Regions from separate parts of the Homo sapiens genome. Here region 1 is linked to region 2. Evidence: fine-mapped expression QTL. Tissue or cell type: whole blood. Region 2 holds a variant in brackets; the other region holds the start of a gene. All regions are shown on one strand. Distances are from middle to middle.

Evidence for each region. PIP is the estimated chance that this variant, and not a neighbour inherited with it, causes the effect.
Region 1: it holds the start of SLC9D1, and the variant in region 2 is fine-mapped to the expression of SLC9D1 in whole blood (INTERVAL, PIP 0.94).

What each region holds. Positions count from the first base shown.
Region 1 is chr13:113,486,008-113,494,342 of GRCh38, reverse strand. It overlaps SLC9D1 (solute carrier family 9 member D1), which reads right to left and starts at 3,322. Exons shown (of 13, transcript NM_017905.6): 1 at 3,070-3,322. It overlaps DCUN1D2 (defective in cullin neddylation 1 domain containing 2), which reads left to right and starts at 3,632. Exons shown (of 7, transcript NM_001014283.2): 1 at 3,632-3,676. The coding sequence starts at 3,674. RefSeq lists a silencer at 3,012-3,931 and an enhancer at 4,162-4,461.
Region 2 is chr13:113,523,188-113,531,522 of GRCh38, reverse strand. All of the region lies in intron 8 of SLC9D1 (solute carrier family 9 member D1), which reads right to left. Among named protein-coding and RNA genes, the nearest start is that of SLC9D1, 36 kb to the right of the region's middle. The variant C/A (reference allele first, on the strand shown) is at 4,342.

The DNA of each region.
Region 1 (8,335 bases), 37 kb after region 2:
GAGACCGTGGAAGGAAGGAGTAATAAACGTAGAGTCCGTGGAATTTGGCCACTAGGAGATCACCAGTCACAAGTAGCTATCCCAAAAAAGGCAACAAAACCAACACCTACCACTTACGCAGATTTACAGTTTAAAGTAAACAACAACAAAATATTAACCTAACCATTCTTCATAGCAGCATCCAATGGACTGTTACTCAGGAATTCCTACTCAACCATCACATATTACAAAGATTCCCCGACCTGGAAACCTGGTTACTAAAAGATGTATCTATATATCTATACTTTCATTTCACTGCTAACCCAAATTCTAATTGGTTTAATCGAGTTTCCCAGGCAAAGTAGGTTAGATGCAGCAAAAGTAAGGGCAGCATTTCTGGAGGCAGCATTCTGCCCAAACCATGAAATGGCAGCCACAGAAAGAGACAAACCTTATGCAAAACAAACAGGAGAACTAAAAAAGCCTGGAGGCCAGATGACTCGGTGAAGGCTCAGCGACTGTCTGCACCCCAGCAGGTCCTGAAGACAGTACTGTGTTAGACAACAGTACTGATCAGAATTACAAGCAAAAGTCACCAAGAAAAGACTATATTCTGGTTAGAAAGTGTTCAATTCAAAACATTCTTGGAGACTGACTCCCAAAAGGAGAAGCACACTCCACAGAGAATTCACTTACCTAGAACAGGTAACTTCCTAACAAGATAGGATAAATGATAATGTGCTGTTCCAATCACTCAATTTTATGTTAGTTTCAATACAACTTTAAGTACACGTGTACAACTTTAAGTACACATTTACCACCTTAAAAACAAACAATGAGGCAATCACTTAGTCATGCCTAGCCATATAGCTGAGCTGTTATTTTAATGACTCACTCAACTGCTAAGCTTCTCTCGGTTGGTCCAACGGAGCTAAATAAATCAACAGCTACTTCACAAGTGAACTTTTAGTATTTTCCAGAACCAAGACAGAAATCTGAGATGCTTTGCTTACACTTCCCAGTTTCCCCAAAAGATCCCAAAAAGTGATTCTTTGATGGATTTTATGCTTCAGAAAAATAAGTTTCAACACAGCTCATGTGTGAATGACACCTCTATGTTCATTTCTGGTTCCTTCCTCAATCAGGTTCCTAAAATTAGTTGTCCCTCTAAGGGAGCTATAATTTTTATGAGAAACCTTTGAGGATTTTAGTTGTAGTTATACTAAAATTTCCCACTGAAACATACTCATAACATGAAACTGAAATTATTTATGGACCCTTAAAATACAAATCACCTTTATTCAAACTCATTTCATTTTATCTTCAAACTTGCCTCCAAAATCCTACTGACTACTAAATTGTAGCATGTTTTTTGAGCAAATTAGTAAACATCTTTAGCTGTTCTAGTTATTAAAAAGACACTTTGGATTCCTGTAATGTGTTTTTTTTGTTGTTGTTGCTGTTTGAGACGGAGTTTTGCTCTTGTCACCCAGGCTGGAGTGCAGTGTTGTGATCTCAGCTCACTGCAACCTTTGCCTCCCGGGTTCAAGCAATTCTCCTGCCTCAGCCTCCCAAGTAGCTGGAATTACAGGCGCTCGCCACCACACCCAGCTAATTTTTGTATTTTTAGTAGAGACGGTGTTTTGCCATGTTGGCCAGGCTGGTCTCAAACTCCTGACCTCAGGTGATCCACCCACCTCAGCCTCCCAAAGTGCTGGGATTACTTTTTAAATAATGAATTCTTAGAATTTCTGCATCTTGAGCAATTGATACACATAACAATGCGGATGTATCTCAAGGCTGAGTGAAAAAAAATCTCAATTTTATTGAGAAGACACACAGGTGTAGATTCACACTCACTAGTGCATGTATAGTTGGTGCAATCTCAACAGGTCAGGGGATTTGATCAAAGAAAATTCCCCACATATACTATGGTTTTGCAAGGTGCTACCATTGGAGAAAACAGGGCAAAGGCACTCTGTAGGATTTCTCTGTATTACTCCTTACAACTTCATGTGATCTACAACCATCTCAAAATAAAAAGGTTTTCAAATTCTACCTAAGACCAGGTGCGGTGGTTAATGCCACTGCTGTATTACGACACAATTATCTGTATTCCCAGCGCTCTGGGAGGCTGAGGTGGGCGAACTGCTTGAGGTCAGGAGTTGGAGATCATCCTGGGCAACACAGCAAGACCCTGTCTCTATTAAAAATGAAATAATTAGCCGGGCGTGATGCTCCCTGTGGCCCCAGCTCCTGGGGAGGCTGAGGCGGGAGAATCGCTTGAGCCTTGACCAGCCACTGCACTCCAGCCTGGGCGACAGCAAAACTCTGTCTCAACAACCACAAAAAAGCTTTAGAATATTTAAGTCAAGCCTGTAGGAGAAAAAAACTACAAATATTTCACAAGTAATCCAATCATTAAGACACTCCTTTTGAAAAAGCCGGTAAATAAGATAAATTTGGAAGACAGAATAATCAGAAAAACAGGCAGTGAATAGGGACCCGATACGCAGCGGTCTTGCTTCCCCCGCGCAGGCGTCCACACCCTGGGTCATGGACACCGTGAGGAGCCGTTAGGAGTCACAGGAGGGGGGCCAGGGACAGGGCTGCATCTCTGCGGCCGGCCCTGGAGGCCCCGAGTCCACCCGGGCGGCCAGGGTGGGAACGCAGGTTCCATTCCAGGTTAGAACGTGGGCCTCAGCGAAGAGCGCCTAGGCAAGGCCTGGAGGAGCGGGACCCCAGGCCACACAGACCACCCGACCCCGGGAGACAATACCTGCAAGAAAAGGGGAGCCCCGAGGAGAGAGAGAGGGGAGGTGAGCCCCAGGGAGGGAGAGAGAGGAGGGGAGCCCCAGGGAGGGAGGGAAGGAAGGAAGGGGACCCCTGGGAAGGGAAGAAGGGAATGGGAGCCCCGGGGAGGGAGAGAGGGGAGCCCCAGGGAGGGAGGGAAGGAAGGAAGGGGACCCTTGGGAAGGGAAGAAGGGAAGGTGAGCCCCGGGGAGGGAGAGAGGGGAGGGGAGCCCCAGGGAGGGAGGGAAGGAAGGGGACCCCGGGAAAGAGCCCCGGATGGACGGGCCTGGTGCTCACCGGGACGCAGGGATCCGCGCCCGCCCGTCCGGCCCGAGCATCACCGTTCCGCGGCCTGGGCCGGGCTCTGAGGCGCCAGGACCCGAGGGGCGGAGGGGGACGCTGTCTCCCGCCTCGGAGCGCAGCGCCGGAGGGCTTCCTTGCATCCCTTCCCAGGCGGGACCAGGGAGGCCGGGAGGCCGGGAGTCCGGGAGGGAGCGGCCGCCGCCCTGCCCAGCACCGCCCCCGCTCAGCCAAGCCGACCCGGACTCCCGCCCAGCCGCAGTCACTGCCCCCTTTAAGAGGCGGGGCGTGGGCGGGTCCCGTCGGCCGCGGGCGGCGAGCACTTCCTGGCCGGCGTGGGGCCTGGCAGCCGCAGGCTGGCGTTGGACCCCGCAGGGGCGAGCCAAGGCCCTCGCAGAGGGCTGGACGCGCAGGGGCTGTGGGGCGCGAGCTCCCGTGGGCCCCCGGGCGGCGCTGAGCATGCCGGGAGTGGGAGTCCCCGCGGCCGGCTCCCGGCACTGCCCCGGAGCCGAGGGCCGCGGCCGTCCGAGGACGAGGGCGGAGCCGCCGCCGCGCCTGCGCAGAAGGCCGGGGCCGGCCAGAAGCGGGCGGCGCGGGGGAGATGGTAGGTGGCCCGGCGTCGCCTCTGCCCGTCGGGGTCGGGGTCGGGGTCGGGCCCCAAGGTCGGCGCAGGCGGCGCGCTGGATGTGGGAGGCCGAGCCCAGCGAGCTGCGCGGGGCGTTCCGCGTGGATCCGAGGGAGGAACGCGCCGCGGGCCCGCGAGCCGGAGCGGTGGCGTCGGAGGCGCGGGACCGCGGGGAGCGCGGGTTTGACCCGGAGCCGCGAGGGACGACCGGGAGTGAGCGGAGGGCGGGGGCCGGGAGGAACTGTAGGGGCCTTGGGGCAGGGGCCGGGGCCGAGCGGGAACCCAGGCCGGGGGCTTCCCAGGGCGGCTTCGAAACGGGCAGTCGAGGCGGGCGAGGGCTCGGCTGCTCCTGCGGGCGTCTGTGCAGATGCTGAGGCTGTTGACCAAAACAGCGCAAGGAAGGAATCCGCGAGAAGCTCAGATTCGCGGGGGAGGCCCTGCTGCCGGGAGGGGAGGGAGAGGCACAGCGGGGCCCTAGCGCGGGCTCTAGCCGGGAGCTGTAGCGTGGCTGTAGGTGTGCATCTGTGGAGCTGGTAGAGTTCCGCAGCGCAGGAGGGAGGCTGCTGGAGGTGCACATCAGTTACTTTGAAATGTGGTGGAAATGGTGATGGATGGGATTTATTCAGTCCACATCGGTTCAGAGGCCAGCAAGGTGCTGCTGGGTGTGACTGGTGCTGGGCCAGGCATGATCTTGGCGTTGAGGGAGTTGATGCCCCAGCAGGGGAGACAGGCACCAGATGCACAATTGTTTGACCACAGTTGGGACAAAGGCTAAGGCACGGGTTCCAGGAACTTGTAGGATGCGGCTGTGGGAGTGGTGTCAGATGCTGAGGGTGTGAGTTGAACTGTGGAGAATTTCTCTGGAAATTAGCCAGAGAAAAAGTGAGGTTCCGGGGCAGCCAGCCGTGTGCGGCTCCAGGCAGAAGAAACAGAATGCACAGACCCTTAGTGGTAGGCGATGATGACGTATAGGAGCTGAAAGATTGTCCTGGCTAAGGCACAGAGAGCCACCGGAGAAGGGACACGGTAACGTGTAGAGGGGAGTGGAGGGTGAGGACAAGCTTCAGGATGGGAGAAGAGCCACAAAGGAGACTGAGAGGGGGCTGGTAGGAGAAACCAGGACACTAGAATGTGTCGAAACCAAGAGGATGGAGTTTAAAGGAGGAGGGAGCCATCAGCAGTGCTGAACAAAAGAGCAGCTGAAAAGATCCCACTGACCGCAGCAGCCGAGCTTTTGTGACCTTTAGGGGTCACTGCGGAGGCCGGGCTGGAGCCAGGTAGCCTGAGTTAGGATGCACACCTGGGCAGGTAGAGATAGCTTGCTCCAGCTTTTAGGAGGACAGGGGCAGAGTGGACAGGAACTTAGTTTGGGGAAAACTTGAACATGTTCAGGATGCTGGAGAGGAGCGTTCCACTGCTGCCGAGGTTGGAGATCCAAGAGCAGGGATGAATTTAACTCCCCCTCCCTCTAGCGTGCTGTATACCGAAACAGAGTGAAAGTGATCCATAAACTTACGTAGTTTATTCGATCAACATGATTGGCCCGCCAGCCCCGGGTAAGTTGACCCTAAGGACATTTTAAGAGTAATTTCTTTCCATTTTACATATGGGTATCCTTGGTGCCAGATTATATGAGTCGTATTTCACAAGGTCACAATTAAAGTGTTTGAGACTTTTTTATAGTTTAGAGATTTTATTTGCTGTTTCCACTGGATTGTCCAGATTTTTATTTCAAGAATTGTGTACATTTTAACAGAAATAATGAAACCTAGAAAATGCCTTCCCCCCACCCCATGTACACACTTTAAAAGCTGGCCTTAATAATTTAATTTGCATGATGTGGTAAGCCTCAGTGAAGGTTGTGAGCTTGAAGGGCGGCCCTAGTTCCAGTGTATCCACCTTGATTAGATTGACCTGGGTTCAGTCCTGTCTGGGTGCACTCGAAGCTTCTTGCCAACGTCTGGGCCTTTGTTAATTTGACCTGGGTTCAGTCCTCTCTTGGTGCACTCAAAGCTTACTGCCAATGTCTGGGCCTTTGTAAATTTGATCTGGGTTTAGTCCTGTCTAGAGGGACTCGGCTTCCTTCTCTCCCCTGTAGTTTTTTAGTTGACGAGCCTTTTTGTTTCCTAAGAAGCTTTATGCCAGTTCCCTTTTTCACAAGAGGTAACTTGGGTCTCTCAGTCACTTTTGGACATGAAGCACCTAGTCTTTAGACTTAGCTATCGATCATTGCTTTAATCACTGTTATTTTATGGAGAAACCTGTAAGGGGTGACATCAAATGATTGCAGCTTTGTTGACTGACCAGAGGCCTGTTAATGGACTAAGCCTAGACCCCAAAGCTTCTCTTGCTCCTTCAGAACCAGTGCCTTGGCACCACCGTGTGGTTCAGGGTTTACTGGAGTATCTTGTGACATCAGACAATTTGAGTAGATTGCAGGGGGCTCTTCGTGTTTCTGGATACCGACTTCTGTCCACTCTAGCTAACAGTAGTGATTCAAAGCCATTTTGAGTGGCCTGGATCCATGTGCTCCTGCATCTGTTCTTCTAGAGTTCCAAGAAATTAGGCTGCTGGTGTTATGGTGTTGTCACACATTAGGGGAGGCTTCAAGGGGTTATCGGCAGGAGCTCAAGATCAGACACCATCATATCTTCCAGATTTGCACATTCCTGGTGTGGAGTCATCAGTTGTATAATGCTGGTTAAATAATTCAGTCGCCGAAGAGTATATTAGTCTGCTGATTGGTCTTGGAGGGTCTGAGGGTACAATGTTGAATTTTTTTAGGTGAAATTCATATAACATAAAATTAACTATTTTAAAGTGTACAATTCAGTGGTGTTTAGTACGTTCACAAATTTGTGGAACCACTACCTCTATCTAGTCCTAAAACATTTTTGTCACCCCGAACGATAACTGTACCCATTAGCAGTCACTCCCAACTCCTCCCTTGCCCCAGCCCCTGGCTACCACTCACCTTTCTCTCTATATAGATGTGCCCATTCTGGATATTTCATATAAGTGAAATCGTACACTGTGTGGCTGGAATCGCACACTGTGCGGCTGGACTCATGCACTGTGCGGCTGGAGTCGTGCACCGTGTGGCTGGACTCGTGCACTGTGGCTGGAGTCGTACACTGTGCAGCTGGAGTCGTGCGCTGTGTGGATGGAATCATACACTGTGTGGCTTCTTGTGCCTGGTTTCTTTTACTCAGTGTCAAAAGTTCATCCATGTGGCATGTATCAATACTTCATTCCTTTTTATGGCCGAATTATGTTCCGTTATATGGATATAGTAAATGTTGTTGTATAACCATGGCAGATTTTTAAATCTAGCAACGATGACCACTTCCATAATAAGGGCGTCATGGCTGTTCCTGGTGGTGGACCATTTTGGGGGCTGCACTTCTGTCTTTATCCTAAGGTTTTTGAGGTAATTCTTGGCTTTGCTCACCCTCCCTTGGGAAGGCTGTCAACTTCATAAAAAGACTCTAGCTGTATCTTTTGTCAGCTTACGGTCAGAGACTATGGGATCTGCCTTAATTTAGCTAAATTTGATCTTACCAGAGAATACAACCTTGAATTTTTTGTTTAGTTCTTTTCAAAAGCTCAGTTTCAGGAAATAATGTAGTGAATATGTATTCCATTTATTCCTCTAGAATCTAGATCGGGGTCGGCAAACTACAGCCCACAGGCTAGCTGTCTGTTTTTGTAAATTGAGTTTTATTGGAACACAGCCTACGGCTGTCTGCTTTGGCAACAGACCCACAGGCCTGAGATGGCAGAGATGGCTGCTGTCTGGAACATTAAGAGACAAAGTTGGCTGAATGAAGGCTTCTGATCTTCTTCATCCGTTCTTAATCTGAGTTCTACCTTCCCCTTGTGAGGACTTTGCAGATGGGCTTAAGCCATCTGTGAAACCCCTGAAATTTTATGCAAAGCTGCCTGCACGTGTGAGGGCCATATATGTTTTCCTGGAGGGCGGACCTGTGACTCCTCAGATTCCAAAAGGGATCCAAGACTCCCAAATGCTCAACACTCATTGTTTGAGTAGCCGAAATGTTAATTGCCTAGCATCACCTGAATTAGCCATTCTCTTAAGTGTTTAGTCTCAGGAGTTCGATGTGGTTTTTGGGTTTGTTTTTTGTTTTCTAACTTTTAGGTTCAGGGGTACATGTGCAGGTTTGTTATAAAGGTCAACTGTGTGTCATGGGAGTTGGTGTACAGATTATGTCGTCAACCAGGTACTAAGCACAGTAGCCGGTGGGTAGTTTTGGGATCCTCTCCCTCCTGCCACCCTCAAGCAGGCCCTGGTGTCTGTTGGTCCTTTTTTGTGTCCACGCCTGCTCAGTGTTCAGCTCCCACTTACAAGTGAGAACATGTGGCATTTGGTTTTCTGTTCCTGCGCCAGTTCACTTAGGAAAATGGCCTCCAGCTCCATCCATGTTGCTGCAAAGGACACAATCTCGGTCCTTTTTATGGCTATGTAGTATGCCATGGTATATATGTAGCACATTTCCTATATGTTTTTAAGAATGATTGGAACCCCAGTCATTCTTAAATGAGAGTTCTTGTTTGTGTGGGTAATAGTCATCAATATTGACCATATTAGAAATTAAAATAGTATTAAAATATTTCTAT
Region 2 (8,335 bases):
CGGGGCGCCGTGTCACCTGCAGGTCCACACGCATGCTGCTCTTGATCTGTATGTACAGGGCGCCGTGCCACCTGCAGGTCCACGCGTGTGCTGCTCTTGATCTGCACATACGGGGCGCCGTGTCCACGGCTGTTCTGACTGTCTCAGCGTGTTTGGACAAGCTTCCCATCAGCACATCTGACCTGCGGACAGGTGAGTGGACAAGCTTCCCATCAGCACGTCTGGCCCGCGGACAGGTGAGTGGACAAGCTTCCCATCAGCATGTCTGGCCAGCGGACAGGTGAGGAAGGGCTCCCTGGCGGGACGCACCATCATTTGCTCAGCCAGATGCAAGGGCTGTCCCGGTTCTCACACTGACTCCACGGCCATCCTGGTTCTTGGGCGCTGCGGTGACCAAGGAGCCTGTGGGTCCACTGATGGTGGCAGTGGGTGCTCACTAAGGGAGCCGGGTGCCTCCCACTATGACAGGTGCTGTCTGGTGGGCCGCCAGGAAGTTGCTCCAATTCCCATCCCAACAATGATGCCCAAGGTACCCCACTTCCCAACCTGGGCACCACCCAGCTTCTAATGGTGCCCAGTCTGATGGGCGGGTGGTGCCATCACCCTTCTTTGGTGTGAGGGTGGGTGTTTCCTACTTTACTCAAGTCTAATAGCTGCTTTGCTGCTGACCTGTTTTCAAACTCAGTTATTCATATTTTTCTTATTAAGGTATAGGAGACCTTTATAAAATAAGAAACATAAGCCTCTGTCTTTAATATGGGCATAAACATCTGTTTTGCTTTATTACAGCCTTCTGTGTTCTGTTCTTTACCTGTGAAATATTTTGAGGGAAAGAGTTCTTTCCTCTAGGAATGATCAAGGTTAATTCTGAATAAAGCTTAATAAGAAAGCAGAGTCTATTATGTTGCAACTAATTTTATTTCTTTGATATTTTAAATATAAATTTTCCCTCGTTATTAAAATTGAAAGGGAGGTTTTCCTAAATTACAGAAAAGTATATATAGTAGAAAAAACTTAGTACAAATCTACCAGTCTACTAGTAGAAAATCATTAACACCTTGTTATATATACATATATATATTTCTAGTCTCTATTCATGTTCTTCTATGTCTAATTAAAATATCGTATATATTTTTAACAGCTATGATATATAATTCACTTACCATACAACTTACCCATTTAAAGTATACAATTCAATGGTTTCCAGCATATTCACAAAATTACACAACTATTACCACAATCCATGTTAGAATACTTTCATCATCCCAAAAAGAAACCCTGTACCCATCAGCACTTCCTCCCCATCTCCCCCAACCTCCCCACCCTCCGGCAACCAGTAATTCATCCTGTCTGTACGGACTGGCCTAGTCTGGACGTTGGTATGAATGGAATCACACAGCGTGTGGACTTTTTGTCCGGTTCTTTCAGAAGCATCGTGCTTCATCTGTGCTATAGGATGAATCAATGTTCATTCTATATTATGGCTGAATAATATTCCTTTGCTGAATATAGTATGTTTTGTATATCTACCTGTTATCTAATTGACATTTGAGTTCTTAATACTTTTTAACTATACGAATAATGCTGCTTGAACATTCAGGTACAAGTTTTTCATTGTGGTGAAACTCTCATACAATAAAATGTACCATGTTAACCATTTCTGAGTGTGTAACTCTGTGGTATCAGGTGGATTCACACTGTTGTACCCCCATCACCACCGTGTATCAGTCTGAATGTGGATGTGTGTTTTTGTTTCTTGCGGGTAAATACCGAGGAGCGAACAGCTGGGTCAAATGGGAGCTCTGTGTTAGCGTCAGGAGGAACGTGGTCTACAATTCTGACTCTGTTTCTGTTTCTTTTGTTTTTTTTTTTTGAGATAGAGTCTTGCTCTGTCGCCCAAGCTGGAGTGCAGTGTCGTGATCTCAGCTCACTGCAACCTCTGCCTCCTGGGTTCAAGTGATTCTCCTGCCTCAGCCTCCCGAGTAGCTGGGAATACAGGCACGTGCCACCATGCCTGGCTAATTTTTTGTATTTTTAGTAGAGACGGGGTTTCACCGTGTTAGCCAGGATGGTCTCGATCTCCTGACCTCGTGATCCGCCCCCCTCAGCCTCCCAAAGCGCTAGGATGACAGGCGGAAGCCGCTGCGCCCGGCTCTCAAGCCATCTTCCTGCCTCAGCCTCCCAAAGCGCTGGGATGACAGCGTGAGCCGCTGCACCCGGCCCGATTCTGTTTCTTAAGTTTAACAGCATTACAGAGTATTTTTCCAAGTCATCAACTCTTTGTAAACATGAAGTGTCATGACTGAATTAGAACAATTTCGGTGGGATCAATACCTGTACTGCATTAATTTTTTGAATTGGAAAAAAGGGAAAAAAAAGCTTTAAAAGTGTTCTGATTAAGACAATGTCTTATGCCAGCATGTTAGACCTGCGTGTAACTGGAAAGAACGTGGCAGTGAGATCAACGTGGTGTTTGAGTTTTACAAATGCCCTGCAGTCTCTGCCAGGGCTCTGCTTGTTTCGTATGGAGAGTCCGCCCTCCGTTGAGAATAACTGGTTGTGCGTGGAAAATGCTCAGACCTCTTAACTAGAAGTCATCTCCGGCTAGCATGACAACCCTTCCTTCTGTTGTCCAAATTATGTTGTTCAACTTATGTTGGACATTGTAGCCAGAAGGAATAAGAACTGATTCCGATGTGGCGGTTGGGACTAAAAGCGTTATTTTTCTGATATTTAAAGACATCTGGATCAAAGGAAAATGGCCATGATAAGGACCCTCTTATCATAAGGACCCTCTTATCATAAGGACCCTCTTATCACAAGGACCCTCTAGCGAGTGAACTCTAACCACTGCCTCCACCAGCGGCTGCACTAAGTGCCCTGCCTGGTTTTCTCTTTCAGTCTTCCCACGGTCCACCAGGTAGGCACTGTTCCCACGTCCTCCCCAATTCACAGAAAGCTGCCAGGGCTTGCACGGCCAGAGCATGGCCAAGCTGGGGCTCTAGCCTGGGCTGAACCTCTGGAAAACCCAGGTAAACAGCCCTTCATTCCTTCTACTTTCCTGCCTGCCTGGCTGAGCTACCGACAGCAGGGAAGATGTAACAGAAGATCTGGCAAAAGGCAAATACTAAAAAATTCTTCCACCCCACCGCCTGCCATGAGGAAGCGCTTGCCAGCTGTTTGGGCCGGGGTGGGGCTGGAGGCCTGGCAGGAAGCAGAACCCCCTGGCCAGGCCTCACACCACCCTCCCCAGGGGAGTCACTGGTTTAAAGCCTCCTAATAAACACACGAACCACCCAGGATACAACGAAAAGTCGCTCATCATATTAAGAATCGGGAAAATCACAACTTGAAGGAGAAAAGACAAGCGCCAGACTTCACATCGAGACGAACGGATACTGGAGTTATCTGATGAGGGTGTTAAAGCAGCCATGACTAAAACGCTTCAAAAGGCCACAAACACTCTCTGTAAACAAATAAAAAATAGAAAATCTCAGCCAAGAAATAAAGGCTACATAAAAGAAGTAAGTGGAAATTATACAACTAAAAAAATACAGTCATAATAAAAATCTCTGGGGATGGGCTAAGTGGCAGAGTGGAGACGAGAGAGGGCAGAACCGGTGACCCCGAGGACAGACAGAATTCATCTGCCTGAACACACAGAAACGGACCGAGGACGGTCAAGGCCTCAGAGACCCGCAGGACCCTAACCAAAGAGCAGATTTCTAAGTTTCCGCAATCGCAGGAGAGAACAAGTGGACTGAAAAAGGATGTGAGGAAATGATGGCTGAAAACTTCCTGTTAGCCAAGAGACATAAACCCACAGATGCGAGAAGCCAACTGAATCCAAATAGAACAAACCCAGAGAAATCTGCTCCAGGATGTATGGTAATACAATTTCTGAAAACTAAAGACAGAGAAAAAAACCTTGAAAGCTGCCAGAGAGAAACCCCTCATTCCTTCGAGAGAAGCACAAGTCTAAACAGCAGCAGGTTTCATAGCTGGAACACAGAAGCCGGGGGCAGGGACACGCGCTTCCCAGGCACTGGATGAGGAGAGCCACCACCTGGAAATCCACATCCCGTGAGATGCCCTCGGAGTGACGCGGGGACAAAGGCCATTCCCAGACGAAGAAAAACTTAGAGAATTTGTGGCCAGCAGATTAACCATGAAAGAATGACCAAAGAAAGTTCTCTACACAGAGAGGAAATGATTACAGAAGATAGATGGGAACATCAGAAGGGAAAGAAGAACACCAGAATGGGTAAAAACAGGTATGAGAAGAAGAGATTATCCTTTTCCTCCTGAGTTTTCAAAATCGTATTTGATGTCTGCAGTAAA[C/A]ATTACAACACCATCTGCTGTGGTATTCAATAAAAGAAGAGAAAAGACAACAATTATACAGTCATGTGCCACTTCACAATGGGGACACATTCTGAGAAGCATCATAAGGCAATTTCATCATTGTGCAGACATTCCAGAGTGCATTTACACAAACCCAGACCCACCCAGGCCGCCTGGCACTGCCTCCTGCTCCTGGACCACACACCTGCACAGCACGTGACTGCACTTAATACTGCAGCCAACTGTAACACAATGATAAGTATTTGCATATCTAAACACAGAAAATACACACTGAAAGTATAGCATCAAAGGTAAAAATGGCACACCTGTACAGGGCGCTTGCAGGACTGGAGGTTGCTCTGAGTGAGTCAGGGAGTGAGGGTGAGTGAATGTGAGAGCCTTGGACACTACTGTAAACCACGGCAGACGCCACAGGCGCTGTACACTCAGGCTACACTAAACTGAGACAGTGTCTCACTGTGTTGTCCAGGCTGGAGAGCAGCGGTATGATCACAGCTCACTGCAGCCTTTATCTCCCAGGCTCAAGCAATCCTACAGCCTTCGCCTCCAGAGTAGCTGGGACTATGGGTGTGCGCCACCACGCCTGGCTAATTTTTTTTTTTTTGGTAGAGATGAGGTCTTGCTATGTTGCCCAGGCTGGTCTTGAACTCCTAAACTCAAGCAATCCTCCCGCCTTGGCCTCCCAAAGACTAGGATTACAGGTGTGAGCCACCACACCTGGCCAACTGTGCTGAGTTTATTAAAAATATTTTTCTTTCTTCAGTATTAACCTTAACTTACTGTAACTTTTTAACTTTATAAACTTTAAGGTTTTTAAAAACTTTTTGACTCTTTTGTAATGACACTTAAAACAGAAACTGTATGGCTGTACAAAAAATATTTTCTTTCTTCTTATTTATTCTATACGTTTTTTTCTATTTTAATTTTTTTTAACTTTTTAAACTTTTTGGTTAAAAACTAAGACACAAACACACATTAGCCTAAACCCGCACAGGGTCAGGACCATCAGTGTCGCTGTCTTCCACGTCCGCATCCTGTCCCACTGCAAGGTCTTCAGGTGGAATAACCGGCACAGAGCTGTCGTCTCCTACGACGACGACGGCTTGTTCTAGAATAACCGGCACATAGCTGTCGTCTCCTACGACGACGACGGCTTCTTCTAGAATAACCGGCACAGAGCTGTCGTCTCCTACGACGACGACGGCTTGTTCTAGAATAACCGGCACAGAGCTGTCGTCTCCTACGACGACGACGGCTTGTTCTAGAATAACCGGCACAGAGCTGTCGTCTCCTACGACGACGATGGCTTGTTCTAGAATAACAGGCACAGAGCTGTCGTCTCCTACGACGACGATGGCTTGTTCTAGAATAACCGGCACAGAGCTGTCCTCTCCTACGACGACGATGGCTTGTTCTAGAATAACCGGCACAGAGCTGTCGTCTCCTACGATGACGATGGCTTGTTCTAGAATAACAGGCACAGAGCTGTCGTCTCCTATGATGACGATGGCTTGTTCTAGAATAACAGGCACAGAGCTGTCGTCTGCTATGATGACGATGGCTTGTTCTAGAATAACCGGCACAGAGCTGTCGTCTCCTATGATGATGATGGCTTGTTCTAGAATAGCTCCTGAAGAACCTGCCTGAGGCTGTTTTGACAGTTCTACTTCTCTTTATAAGTAGAAGGAGTACACTCTAACGATAAAAAGTATAGTAAATACATAAACCAGTAACAGTGATTTATTGTCGTTATCAAGTATTCCGTACCATGCCTAATTGGGTGTGTGAGCCTTTTATATGATTGGCAGTGCAGCAGGTTTGTTCGTGCCAGCATCACCACAAGCATGGGGGCATTACACTGCCCTGTGACGTTACAAGGGCTGCAACCTCACTAGGCAACAGGAATTGTTCAGGTCCAGAGAATCCCACCCGACCACTGCTGTACAGGTGGCCCATCACTGACCAAAATGTCATTATGCAGCGCGTGACTATTTAACATGTGGGCAGGGGGAGGGAGCTAAGTGGAAATAAGGCTTCTACATTTCACATGAAGTGGTAAAACGTGGATTCCAGCAAACAGTGATAAGTTACATGTGTCCACTGTGATACCCAGAGCAACCAGGAAAACCACACAGAGCAATACACTCAAAACATTATAAATGAGCCTAAACAGAATCCCTGAAAACACGCAGTCAACCCACAGAGATGTAAAAGAAAAAGAGTAACGAGACAAAAAACAAATAAAATGCAGACTTAAGTTGCAACATATCAATATTTACCTGATATGTAAATGGTCTAAACATACCAATTAAAATACAGAGACTGGCTGAGTGGATTTAAAAAAATCATCCAACAATATGTTCTCCACAAGAAACTCACTTCAAATACAAGGGCATAAGTTGAAAGGAAAAGTATGAAAAGGATACACCATTGCAGACATTGACCAAAAAAAAAAATAATATTATTTTAATATCAGATAAAGTGAATTACACGGCAAGGAAAATTACTAGAAACAAAAGAAATATGGCCAGGCACAGTGGCTCACACCTGTAATCCCAGCACTTTGGGAGGCCGAGGCTGGAAGATCACTTGAGGCCAGGAGTTTGAGACTGGCCCGGCCAACATGGCGAAACCTTGTCTCTACTAAAAAATACAAAAATTAGCCAGGTGTGGTGGCACACGCCTGTAATCCCAGCTACTCAGGAGGCTGAGGCACGAGAATCACTAGAACCCAGGAGGCAGGAGCCGAGATCACGCCACTGCATTCCAGCCTGGGCAACAGAGCAAGACTATGTCTCGAAAAACAACAAAAAAAGAAATATTACATAATGATAACAAGATCAATTCACCAGGAAGACAAAATGATCCTAAATGTGTATGTACCAAACAAAAGAGCCCCAAAATACATAGAGCAAAAGCTGATTGAACTCAAAGGAGAAACAGACAAATATCCAATTCTAACGGGGGACTTCAATACCATCTCCCTCAACAACTGATACAACTACAGCAAGAACACGAAATAGCGCAGTTAACTGACTGACATATATTAAAAAAAACTCCACTCAACAATAACAGAATACACTTTTTTTTCCTCCCAAGTGACTTTGGAGCATTTACCACAGACAGTATCACTGGCCATAAAACAAACCTCAACAAATGTAGAAGAACTGAAATCATACAAAATGTTCTCGCGCCACAGTGGACTCAAACTACAAATCAGTAACAGAAAGACATCAGGAAAATCTCCAGATGTATGGAAATTAAGCAACACTTCTAAACAATCCATGAGTCAAAGAAGTATCAAAGTAAATTTTTAAAACTCATTGAACAAAATGAAAATAAAAATACAACATATCAAAATATGAGATGCGGCTAAAACAGTGCTGAGAGGGAAATTTACAGCAGTAAATGCTTACAGTAGAAAAGATGAGAAGTTTAAAATCAATAATCTAAGTTAAACCATAAGAACCTAGAAAAAGAAAAGTAAAATAAACCCAAAGCAAGAAGGAAGGTGAGGGTAGAAACTAATGAAATTGAAAACAACAACAAAATAAAGAAAATCAATAAAACAAGGAACGAATTCTTTGGAAAGATTAATACAATTGCCAAATCCCTAGACAAAGATGATGCAAGTTATCAACATAAGCAATGAAACAGAAGATATCACTACAGACCCTGTGGACATCAAAAGAATGATAAAGGAATACAACACAAAAACTCTGTATATATAAATCTGACAACTGAGACAGAGTGGAACAATTCCTCAAAAAGCTAAGCTACCACAACTCAACAATATGAAGTAGATATTCTGAATATCTACTGTGACTATTAAGCAAATTAAATTTGTAAGAAAACTCCCCAAAAGGAAATCTCATGACCCAGAGGGTTTTACTGCAGAATTCTACCAAATATTAAGGAAGAACTGACATCAATTTTATACAATGTTTTCCAGAAAATAAAAAGAAAGGAACAC